2 separate regions of the Homo sapiens genome follow, and region 2 is linked to region 1. Evidence: fine-mapped expression QTL. A gene starts in region 1. The other region holds a variant in brackets. All regions are shown on one strand. Distances are from middle to middle. Region 1 holds the start of PAK6 (p21 (RAC1) activated kinase 6). Region 2 overlaps BUB1B-PAK6 (BUB1B-PAK6 readthrough).

Region 1 (5,369 bases):
GGAGACCCCACCCACTGCACCCTCCCTGTGTCTGGCAAGTCCGGGAGGGCCCAGAGCACTCACAAAGCATCAGTTTGTCCTCGGGGCACTGGAGAGGCCGTGCAGTCCCCACACTCCCCCTCTCAGGTGCACAGAGCTTCCATCCAAATCAGCTGCTCCCAGAAGGGCTTGCCTCTGGTGCCGACCCTTCCCTGACCAGGCGCTCTGTCACTAGGGCTCCCAGGTGCCACCTCCAAGCCTGGGCCAGGACAACCGCCAGGGAAGCCTGCCTGCAGAGGGGACTCCTTGCTTGCCCCAAAGGCCTCAACCCCAGCTAGATGAGCTCCCGTGGGGCTGAGTCCCAGGCCCACCAGGCCTGGGGGCCACACGGCTCCTAAGCTCATCCTCTCCTCCTGCAGCCCAGTTCCCACCAGAACCAGCCTCAGGAAGACCCCAGGCAGAACGGCACAAACCTCTTGGTGTACAATGCCAGGGAAAGGATAACTGGAGACCACAAGACGTTAGCCTTGCTTCCCGGTGGGGCCCAGTGCTTTATAAACCCGAGCTCACTGGGCCCGATGTCCCCAAAGCTGACCAGGTCATCCACCCTGCAGCAGGGGTGGGGAGACCAAGGCCTGTGAGGAGTGACCGTGCTTGGCCAGGCAGCTCCCTGAACCTGCCCTGATGCTGAGTTTCAGAGTCAGAATCTGTGCCAGGTCAAACCCAGCCAAAGGGTGTGACTTGGAGCCTGGGACCCAGCAGTGCTCCCTAAATATTTGTGGAATGAATACACAAGGGAAATGTCCCAGAGGTGGTAAAGTGAGAGGGGCCTTGGATAGGGGTGTCCCGGTGGCACTGGCTTGGCCCAGCTGGGGCAGGAAGAGTAGAAACAAGCACCTCTCCCTCTAGCTAGGGAGCCAGAGACCAGCTGGGATTGGACTGTTTCACAATCAATCTGGAAAGAAGGTGGCAGGCCGGGTGGGGAGTGGAGCCCCTTGACCCAGGAACCCACAGCTGTGGAGTTAGCCTCCCTGTCCCAGGTGGGAGGCAGCCTGGACACCTTGGCACCCCCGTCCCTAGCCCAGGAATCCGGAGCACGCAGCGGCAGTGGGGACCTTACCGTGGCTGCTCCTTCTGGGCAGCGGGGTCCTGCGTTCTCCACTGCAGGCTGGTGCTTGTCTCTAGCCCAGGAAGCGGCACTCCCTTCAGGCAAAATAGAAAAAAAAAAAAAAAAAAAAAGGAAAAGAAAACCTCAGTGCTTTTCTCACCCAGCCTCTTCTCTTGAAGGCTCCTGGTTGGTATTGTCCTGCCACTGTGGGCACACAGCCTCCCTCCCTCTGGCAGCTTACTCACTGGTGCCCGCAAAGCTGCCAGCTGTGTGGGGGAGAAGGGACCTCCCCCCTCCTCCTGACACACACTGGGGCATGCCCTGTGGGGACCAGGGGCTTGAGGGTGGCACCCGCTGGGTCCTGATCATGGGGAAGCCGTACCCTGGCCAGCACCCTTCTCACTGAATGTGTCCCTGTGAGCTCAGCAGAGACGCACATGGGTGCTGACTGGCCCTGCATAAGAGAGTGACATGGTTCTTGGTAGGAAGCTGTTTCCTTGGTACCCAGGCCTGCCAGAATGAAGGGGCAGCTGATGGGCTGTCCAGCCCCCCAGTGATGGGCTCTCACCCTGGCCAGCCCCTCCGGACGGCTTCCTACCTGGGCATCTTGCTGTGTCTCTGTCCTGTGCACCCAGACAGGGCCTGGGCCTGCCGGGGCTGGCAGCTGCTCCTCACCCTGCTCAGGCCGTGTGTCTGGCGTCCCCTCTCCCTGACGCCCATCTCAGGGCCTGCGCCCACCCAGCATCAGTTAGGATAAACTCCTGTCAAGCCCCCAGCCAGCTCTCTGCTGGACCCAGCTGCTGTCCCCAGCAGGGGGACGGCACACACACTGGCTTACACACTCTCGCACTCACACACACGTGGGTCCACACCCAACACAGAGCCACCTACCTGCCCAGGCCAGCCTAAGCCAATCCAGCCTCGCTCTCCAAATGCCACTCCGACCCCAGAAGCCACTCCTTTACCGAAACATCCCCGTGGGAGATGAGTTCAGAGCCAGCCCGGGAGGACTCCAGTCAGCTCGGACAAGACTGCCCTTCTGTCCCAACACCTCCAGAGGACACACACAGGCAGCCTGACCACCATATCTGCTATTGCACTCTGCCTGCTGCCACAGCCCCCCGGGCACTTCTGGCCCCCACAGCGTCTTCCATATCTTTAGGGGGTGGCAGCAGACTCACAGCAAGTCCCATCTTCCTGGAGCCCAAGGTAGGGAGGGGAGAGCTAGAAGGGGCGGGACTCAGGTGCAGCTCCAAGTTTCCAGCTCCCAAAATAATCAGATGCAAAGGAGAAGCAAGAACAGCTCGAGGCGGGCGGTGACTCAGTGCTAGTGGGCCGGCTTAGTCACCTGGATGGCTGCTGGCGGCTCCTGGCACATCAGGACGGGAGCAGCGCCCTCCCCCACCTGCCTGGACCGTGGCTGTCTCCAGAGTGTGGCCGCCGAGCCCCGCGCCCAGGGCTGCCTGGCAGGCGAGGCCGCTCCACCCCGCTCCCGCCCATCAGGGCCCAGCGGCCCCGGCTGCGGCGCGCCCCTCCTCCACCGCGCGCCCCGGCTCACTTTGGGATTTCTCCATTAAATCCTCAGGCATCGACCTGCTCGTTTGGGGCGCCGAGCTGCTCCAACGTTGCTTGGCAATTTTGATATCGTCGGGGGTTGCCATGGGGAGGAAGGTGATGTCATTGACACAAAAAACCCACTGAATTTACAAATCAGCTGGGGCTGGAGCTATTTATAAAAACACGTTTTTATCTGCCTTTCTTTGCTGAAGGGGAGGAGGAGGAAGGGCTGCCTGCCGGGCTCAGGGTGAGCCTCCCTGCTGTCCTTCCTACCCTTGCCCTAGAGAAGCCAGACCTCCTTGGCTCACCCCCACCCCCACCCCCCAGAACTTGGAGCTGCGCATTCAGATCTGGCAGGTGCTGGTCTCAGCTGGTTTTGCTTCGAAGGCTGAGAGTGGCACATGGGATGTAAGGCAGGGTGGGTGCTGGCTTCCTGGGCTGGCAGGGACCAGAAACCAGTTACTCAACCGGGTCCCTTTATTTCATTGCCCCTGGTCAGAAACAGAGGCATTTGCTGGTGAGGCAGCTTGAGCTCCTTGATGTGCCCCCCTGCCAGCTCCCCGGAGCGCCAGGTGGAGCCCAGCCTTCCACAGTGCCCTCCCCATCCCTAGCCTCAGTGTCTCCTCCACTGGCTTCTTTTCTTCTCCTAGTGTCCAATCGTGGGCTGCCCAAGCTCCAGGCTTGGTCCCCTGCTCATCTCTCCCCACACTCAGCCACCACTCCATCAAAACACCTTTTTTCTGTGGCTTTGACCATCACCTGGGCAAATGCTTGCCCGAAAACCCATTTTGTGCCTGCCCCACTTCAGGCGCCACCTCTGATGGCCCAGCTCCCACTGCCAGGACCCACTAGCTATTGACAGCCAGAGGGAAGCCTGGGAGTTCTTGCCTCTTCCCGTCCCCCAGTCCCTTATATCCAAGGTGGCACTTGGCTCTACATTTTATTTTTGAAAACTTTCTAACTTTCTTCTGTAGCGAAGCCATGTGGTGTTTGGTTAAAAGTCCAGGCTGTGAGTCTTCAGTCTTCCGCATCTCAGCTCCACTGTTCATCAGTTGAGTGACCTTTGGCATGTTATTGAACCAATTGAACTTCAATTTCCTCATCCATAAAATGGGGATGATTTCACCTGCCTCACAGGGCTGTGGAAATTAAAGGAATAAAGTTTCTGGCACAGAGACTGCTCATCTTGATCCCAATAAACATTAGTTTTTATCCACCCCTCCACTGATGGCAGATTAATCTTCCCAAATCATGACCCTAGGCACCTTCTGTGCAAAGGTCTCAAGCTGCATGCGTAGACATTTTGATTGAACGCAGTGTTAGATGTCATGGCATTAAACATAAGAATTTCAATTTGTGGCCAGGCACAGTGGCTCACGCCTGTAATCCCAGCACTTTGAGAGGCTGAGGCGGGTGGACCATGAGGTCAAGAGATTGAGACCAGCCTGGCCAACATGGTGAAACCTCATTCCACTAAAAATACAAAAATTAGCTGGGCGTGGTGGCACATGCCTGTAATCCCAGCTACTTGGGAGGCTGAGGCAGGAGAATTGCTTGAACCCGGGAGGCGGAGGTTGCAGTGAGCCAAGATTGTGCCACTGCACTTCAGCCTGCGCGACAGAGCGAGACTCTGTCTCAAAAGAAAAAAAAAGTTCAATTTGTGGTCAATATGAAACATTTTCCCTTTAACTAGGTTATCAGTTCCTTTTGGAGAGGAACTCTGTATTTTTCTTCTTTTTGTATCTCAATGTAATTTTGTGTGTAAACTTATAAATAATCCACTTCTGCTCTGTCTCACTAAGGAATGATCCAGGAAATGCAAACTAAAACAAAAGGGATATACCACTCCCTGTCATTATACAGTGAAAAAAAAATGGCAGGTGGGAGAGTGAATTGGTACAGTCTTCTTGGAGGGCAATTTTACAGTCTTGACCAAAATTTCAAAATGTGTATGTACTTGATCCAGCAAATGCACTTCTAGGAATCCAAGTTAAGAAATAGTTGCACATCGGCCTGAAGATATTTGTATAAGAATATTCATGGTAGCACTGTTTGTAACTGCAAAGAATTTGAAGCCACCAAAATGTGCATCAATTGGGCAGATTAATTGGGTGACAGATCTATACAGGATGGTACATCCCCATGCAATGAAGTATCTGCAGCCTTAAAATGAATGAGTTTTGTCAGTCGGTATGTATGTACCAGCTATGTGTGTACCGGTATGCATGTACATACGTATGTATGAGGAAGGATGACCACGATAGTTGAGCAAAAAGACCAGGTTTATCAATGTTAACTTGAAAATGAGATGGCATAATCTCATATAAGTTTTTTTATTTAAAGATATTTCTATATCTGTATGTTTAAACCGCAAACTGTCAATGTGGTTATCCTTGGAAATAGGAGTGGTGGTGAGAGGGGTCTTTCACTTTGGACTTTTTACACTCTTGCATTGTTTCAGTGAACATGTACTGTTGTATTTAAACAATACAAAAGTAAAAATAAAGGAATGTATGTTTTTAAAACTAATAATAGGCCAGACGCAGTGGCACACGCCTGTAATCCCAGCACTTTGGGAGGCCGAGGTGGGTGGATCACCTGACGTCAGGAGTTCGAGACCAGCCTGGCCAACATGGCGAAACCCCGTCTCTACTAAGAATACAAAAATTAGCTGGGTGTGGTGGTGGGCACCTGTAATCTCAGCTACTCAGGAGGCTGAGGCGGA
Region 2 (5,369 bases), 24 kb before region 1:
CCTTTGCAGCCAGCCCATTGGGCAGGACCCGTGGGCTCTGTGGCTCGGGCCACGGCATCTGCTTGTGGCCTGCTGGTGTGCCCCCGTTGCAGCTGAGGTAGAGGCCGTGGGGGTCAGTGCGCTCAGACTGGGGGCTCTGGAGGTACATGTCTGGGTCGGTGGCCCAGTGCTCATCCCCCAGCAGCCCCAGGGACTGTGCCCGCCGCCGGCTGGTGGGGCTGCGGCCACGCAGGGTGTTGGAGCTGATGACTGACAACTTCTGGATGTCGTTGAGCAGCCCCGAGATGTAGCCATCCACAGGCATCGCGCTGCCCCGCACCACTGTCTGTAGGGGGAAGAGAAAAGAGTGTGTGGGAGCTGCCCAATTGTGGCAGGGAGGGGTGGCTGGGAGATCAGGGTCAGAGAATGTCCCTGGGGGCCCTGGGGAGGACCACCTAAGGACCTTCCCTGCTGTGTCATCCACCCATTAATTTTTCCATAATTTATCAGGGCCCACCGTGGGTCCCGCCTGTGCTGGATGCAGGGATGCGGGGAGAAGGCCCAGCGTCAGCAGAGCAGATGGTGAGTGCCATGGGGCTGCATCCAGCATGCCCAGGGGTGTGGTCGGCTGGGCCAGGGAGCTGGAGCTCAGGGGGCGGGGCTCCATTCTCTAGCTCCACGGGTGGCTGGGAGAGATGTGCCCAGCCCTCTGAGGAAGAGACACCAGGCCGGGGGCTCCTCCACACACACTGGCTTCGCAGCCTCCAAACCCTGATAGGGCCCCTGACCCCACCTTCTACCAGGCTCTTGGGTCTACTAGTCGTGACCCTCACAACTAAAATTCTCCTGGTCTGGGAGAGCCCTCAGTCCCTATGGGGCTGCAGGTCCAAATATTGAATGGGACACGTCCTAAAAGACTATTCGTTGTCATCTGAAATACAAATGCAATTGAGCATCTCACATTTTCATGTGCTGAATCTGGCAACCCCACCACCCTGCAGAGAGGGTCTCCCCAGCCTCCTTCGCCCTGGCTTACCCAGGGAGAGAATGGCAGGCTGACAGGCAGGGAGTTAAAACAGCTGATTAACTGATAGCTGTGAAGTAGGTGGTTCCTCCAGGGGCCTTTCTGAGGTTTAGCCAGGCATGGTTGTCTGAGTACTGGGAGAGGCTGAACCTCATCCCTGCCGGCCCCTCTTACCTTCATGGGCTGGAGCTGCACCCGTGTGATTCGCGAAGGGTCCACCACGGGCTTGGGGCGCCGCAGTGTGTCCAGGATGTTCTGCCATTGTGGGGGGAGGCCCACAAACTTGCCTTCTTTGGGGTCGAAGGAGGTGTGGACACGGTGCTGGAAGTTCTGTGGCGCTGAGATCTCAGGGCGTTTCTTCTTTTTCTTGCGGAACATGGTGCCTGTAAGTGCAGAGTAAGGTTGAGCTCCCTCCCGGGAAAGAGGGGTGGCTGCAGCAGGGCCTGGGGCACCAGGTTCAGGGCTCCCTCCCCTCCCCCAGCACAGCTCCCCTAGAAGCCTAGGGCTTCCCTCCACCTCCATCTCTGCTTCCTCAGGGAAATGGCTGGCTCCCAGCAGAACAGTCCCAGAAACAACAAACGTGCCATAAATAAGCCAGTGCAGACTATAAACAAGGAAAAGAGGTGTCTTCTTGCCTGTGCCAAGTCCCCTATGGAGCAGGCAGACTCTGGGGGTGTGTTTTTATAAAATCCAAAGCCCATTACAAGTATCATTCCACTGTCTGTCAACGAATTTTAAAAATGGGGAAAGAGGGAGGAAAGTTAGCAAGCTTGTTTTATGAAACGAGTATGACCTTGATTCTTAAAACCAGATAAGGAGAGTGCAAGAAAAGGAAAATTTGACTCAATATCATTTAGGAACGTAACTATGAAAATCTTAAAACTATCGAATTGAATCCAACAGTATATTAAAGTTATTTTTTTGTTGGCTTTTTTTTTTTATTACAACTCAGCTTTGTCCCAGGATGGTTGAACCTGTTAATATGATACGTTAATAAAAAGCCAACCAGCTGATCACAGACATGCTGCCCGGTGTGGGACTATTATGTATCAGGGAGCCCCCAAAGGGCCTTCATGGTTACCATGTGCTTTACCTCAATTCCAGAAAGGCCCTGAGCCAAGAGGATAGCCTGGGGTGGGTGAGGGGCAGCTAACTTAGGGGTAAAGCTCTCCAGAGAAGGCAGAGAGCACCACCTCCCCTTGACACTCTTCTCTCTGGTATTGGAGCTCTATGTAAAACATCACCTGGGCCGGGCATGGTGGTTCATGCCTGTAATCCTAGTACTCTGGGAGGCCGAGGCGGGTGGATCACCTGAGGTCAGGAGTTTGAGACCAGCTTGGCCAACATGGTGAAAACCTGTCTTGACTAAAAATACAAAGAAATTAGCCGGGCCTGGTGGCACGTGCCTGTAGTCCCGGATACCCATGGGGTTGAGGGAGGAGAATCGCTTGAACCCAGGAGGCTGAGGCTGCAGTGAGCTGAGATTGCCCCACTGCACTCCAGCCTGGGCAACAGAATGAGACTCTGTCTCAAAAAACAAACAATAAAACACTTAACCTGCAATCAAGCCTGTGTCCCGTGCCTTGCTGATTCTGGCTTTGCCTAAGGTCGTGCTGAGCTGCATACACAGAAGTGACACAGGCTTGCAATGGATAGCATGGGTAGATCTGAGAGTGGGGAACTGGGGGCCTGGGAAGGGGAGGGACACTTCCAAAGGGTTGCTCTAGTTTCGCCTTCAGGGGATCCCGGACCTGGGATCACATGTTGATGGCAGACAGGGCCAGGGCTGCCTCTTGAATGCTTTTGGATCTGAAGAGGCTCAGAACAGCTCACTGGGTTCTTATGTATCTGAAAAGGTCACTTCCAGGCTTCAAGAAACTGAAACATGATTCTTGAACTGAAAGCTTGGATTACTCATCCGCCCGAAGATCTGGAGTGCAGGGCCGTCATGT[T/G]CTCTTTTGGCTCTTGCTATGGAAACAGCATTTTCCTAGTCATTTTGGCAGGTTCTGAAGGAGGTCGCAGATCTGGGAGGCAGCTGGCAGAAAGGCAGGGACCCTGGACAGCCAGTGGTTCCCCACTAGGAATTCACCATGCGTGACTCAATCAGAGCCCACGTCACATCTCAATGTCAGCCATGCTTCTGGGTCTTGAGGTTCGGGATCCACCGAACACCCCCTAGAGGTAGAGCCACATGTACAGGACCCTTACAGACCAAGCCCTTTGGAATAAAACAACCTGTGTGAGTTGCAGATGAGTTGTAGGGAGTCTCCCACTAATAATTTGGAGAGATTTTGAACAAATAACTGAAATGATCTGAGCCAGGGGGGTTAATGAAAGACAGCTCATAGGGTTTAGGGTGTGTGAAGTAAGCAGAGTCCCCATACATGACGGTTGTTTCTCTTGTGATGTCACCTCTCTTTGAATCCCTGTCTTGAAGCTCAGGCCCTCCAGACACTGGCACTTGGGCAGATACAAGTCTGGGAGTAACACCAAACCACTTTCTGCTCAGACTTACCAGTCAAAGGGGTCATGCCTGATGTCAGGGGTCTGGGACCTGGGGACCTCGCCATATATACATCATGGTTTGGTAAAATTTGTCCTCCTCCTTTTGGCCTTTGCCTTTTTTGTTGTTGTTTGTTGTTGTTGTTGTTGTTTTTGAGAAGGAGTCTTGCCGCCCTGTCGCCCAGACTGGAGTGTAGTGGCACCATCTGGGCTCACTGCAACCTCCACCTCCCGGGTTCAAGTGATTCTCTTGCCTCAGCCTCCTGAATAGCTGAGATTACAGGCACCCACCAACATACCCGGCTAATTTTTGTATTTTTAGTAGAGACGGGATTTCACCATGTTGGCCAGGCTGGTCTCGAACTTCTGACTTCAAATGATCCACCTGCCTTGGTCTCCCAAAGTGCTGGGATTACAGCCTTTGCCTTTTGCTACAGAAGAGTCTTTATTCAGCAGGTCTATTCCCCCAGTCCCTTGGATAGACCTGCTATCCCTGGATTAGTTGAGCTGCCTGTTTCGCCCTCCTCCCTAGCTCTGTGAAATCTTCTGGAGGTGCAGGGACACAGACTGCAGCTGAAGAAGAGCTGGTGAATCCGCCCCCCACCACCCACCCCAGAACAGCCCTCTCCCCAACTCCCCTGCCCCACCCAAGCGCTCAGCTTTTGCTGTGGGGATGCACAGGGAGAGCATCTTTAGCAAATGGTCTCTGACTCTGGGAGCCTCTCTTGAGTCCATTCTAATAGTGAGCCATTCCGGAACAAGTTCTTCCCAGAGGCAGCAGGGAGGCTGGAGAAGAAAGAAGGACAGCCCAGAGGGTGTCCCAGGGCCAGGAGTGGTGATGGTGAGGGTGGGAGTTGGCAGAAGCAATCAGCTGAGCTCAGGCTTTGGGGGCTAGGGAGTAGAGCTTTAGAAACCAGAGGCCATCACTTAGGTCTGGAAAATCAACCAATCAACCACCTAAAGGGAGGCAGCTAGGACTCATCTGAAATGTGGTGAGGCCAACACTGTGTGGGACAACATAACTGTGTAAGTAGAAAATGCGGGAGAATCTACATAAAACTGGGATTAAGGGAGTGAATTTAGAAGGTCCCTGATTCAAGGTCAATATATATATATATATTTTTTGAGATGGAGTCTCGCTGTCTTGCCCGGGCTGGAGTGCAGTGGTGTGATCTCAGCTCACTGCAATCTCTGCCTCCCGGGTTCAAGTGATTCTCCTGCCTTAGCCTACTGAGTAGCTGGGACTACAGGCGCACGCCATCACGCCCAGCTAATTTTTGTATTTTTAGTAGAGATGGGGTTTCACCATGTTGGCCAGGATGGTCTCGATCTCTTGACTTCATGATCCACCCGCCTCAGCCTCCCAAAGTGCTGGGATTACAGGCATGAGCCACCGTGCCCAGGCTCAAGGTCAATATTTTAAAAAATCAACTGGATTTCTACATACCAGTAACAACATGAAATTTTTAAAAAGGGCCAGGCGCGGTGGCTCACGCCTGTAATCCCAGCACTTTGGGAGGCCGAGGTGGGCGAATCACGAGGTCAGGAGATAGAGATCATCCTGGCTAACACGGTGAAACCCCGTCTCTACTAAAACTACAAAACATTAGCCGGGTGTGGTGGTGGGCACCTGTAGTCCCAGCTACTCAGGAGGCTGAGGCAGGAGAATGGCGTGAACCTGGGAGGCGGAGCTTGCAGTGAGCTGAGATCAGGCCACTGCATTCCAGCCTGGGCGACAGAGCGAGACTCTGTCTCAAAAAAAAAAATGAAATTTTTAAAAAGATATCATTTTACATTAAAAATACAAAATATCTAGAATAAATCTAACAAAAAAATACAAAGTCCTTATATTGGAAAATACAAA

The links. PIP is the estimated chance that this variant, and not a neighbour inherited with it, causes the effect. A credible set is the group of variants that fine-mapping cannot tell apart.
Region 2: its variant is the best candidate, but not a certain one, in a credible set for the expression of PAK6 in skeletal muscle (GTEx, PIP 0.73).

Annotation. Positions count from the first base shown.
Region 1 is chr15:40,236,412-40,241,780 of GRCh38, reverse strand. PAK6 (p21 (RAC1) activated kinase 6) reads right to left here and starts at 2,718. Exons shown (of 11, transcript NM_001395430.1): 1 at 1,979-2,718; 2 at 1,100-1,182. All of the region lies in intron 1 of BUB1B-PAK6 (BUB1B-PAK6 readthrough), which reads right to left. It overlaps LOC107984763 (a long non-coding RNA gene), which reads left to right and starts at 2,080. Exons shown (of 3, transcript XR_001751506.2): 1 at 2,080-2,296.
Region 2 is chr15:40,260,798-40,266,166 of GRCh38, reverse strand. BUB1B-PAK6 (BUB1B-PAK6 readthrough) reads right to left here. Exons shown (of 10, transcript NM_001128629.3): 3 at 1,178-1,386; 4 at 1-325. The coding sequence starts at 1,381. PAK6 (p21 (RAC1) activated kinase 6) reads right to left here. Exons shown (of 11, transcript NM_001395430.1): 4 at 1,178-1,386; 5 at 1-325. The coding sequence starts at 1,381. Among named protein-coding and RNA genes, the nearest start is that of PAK6-AS1, 11 kb to the right of the region's middle. The variant T/G (reference allele first, on the strand shown) is at 2,956.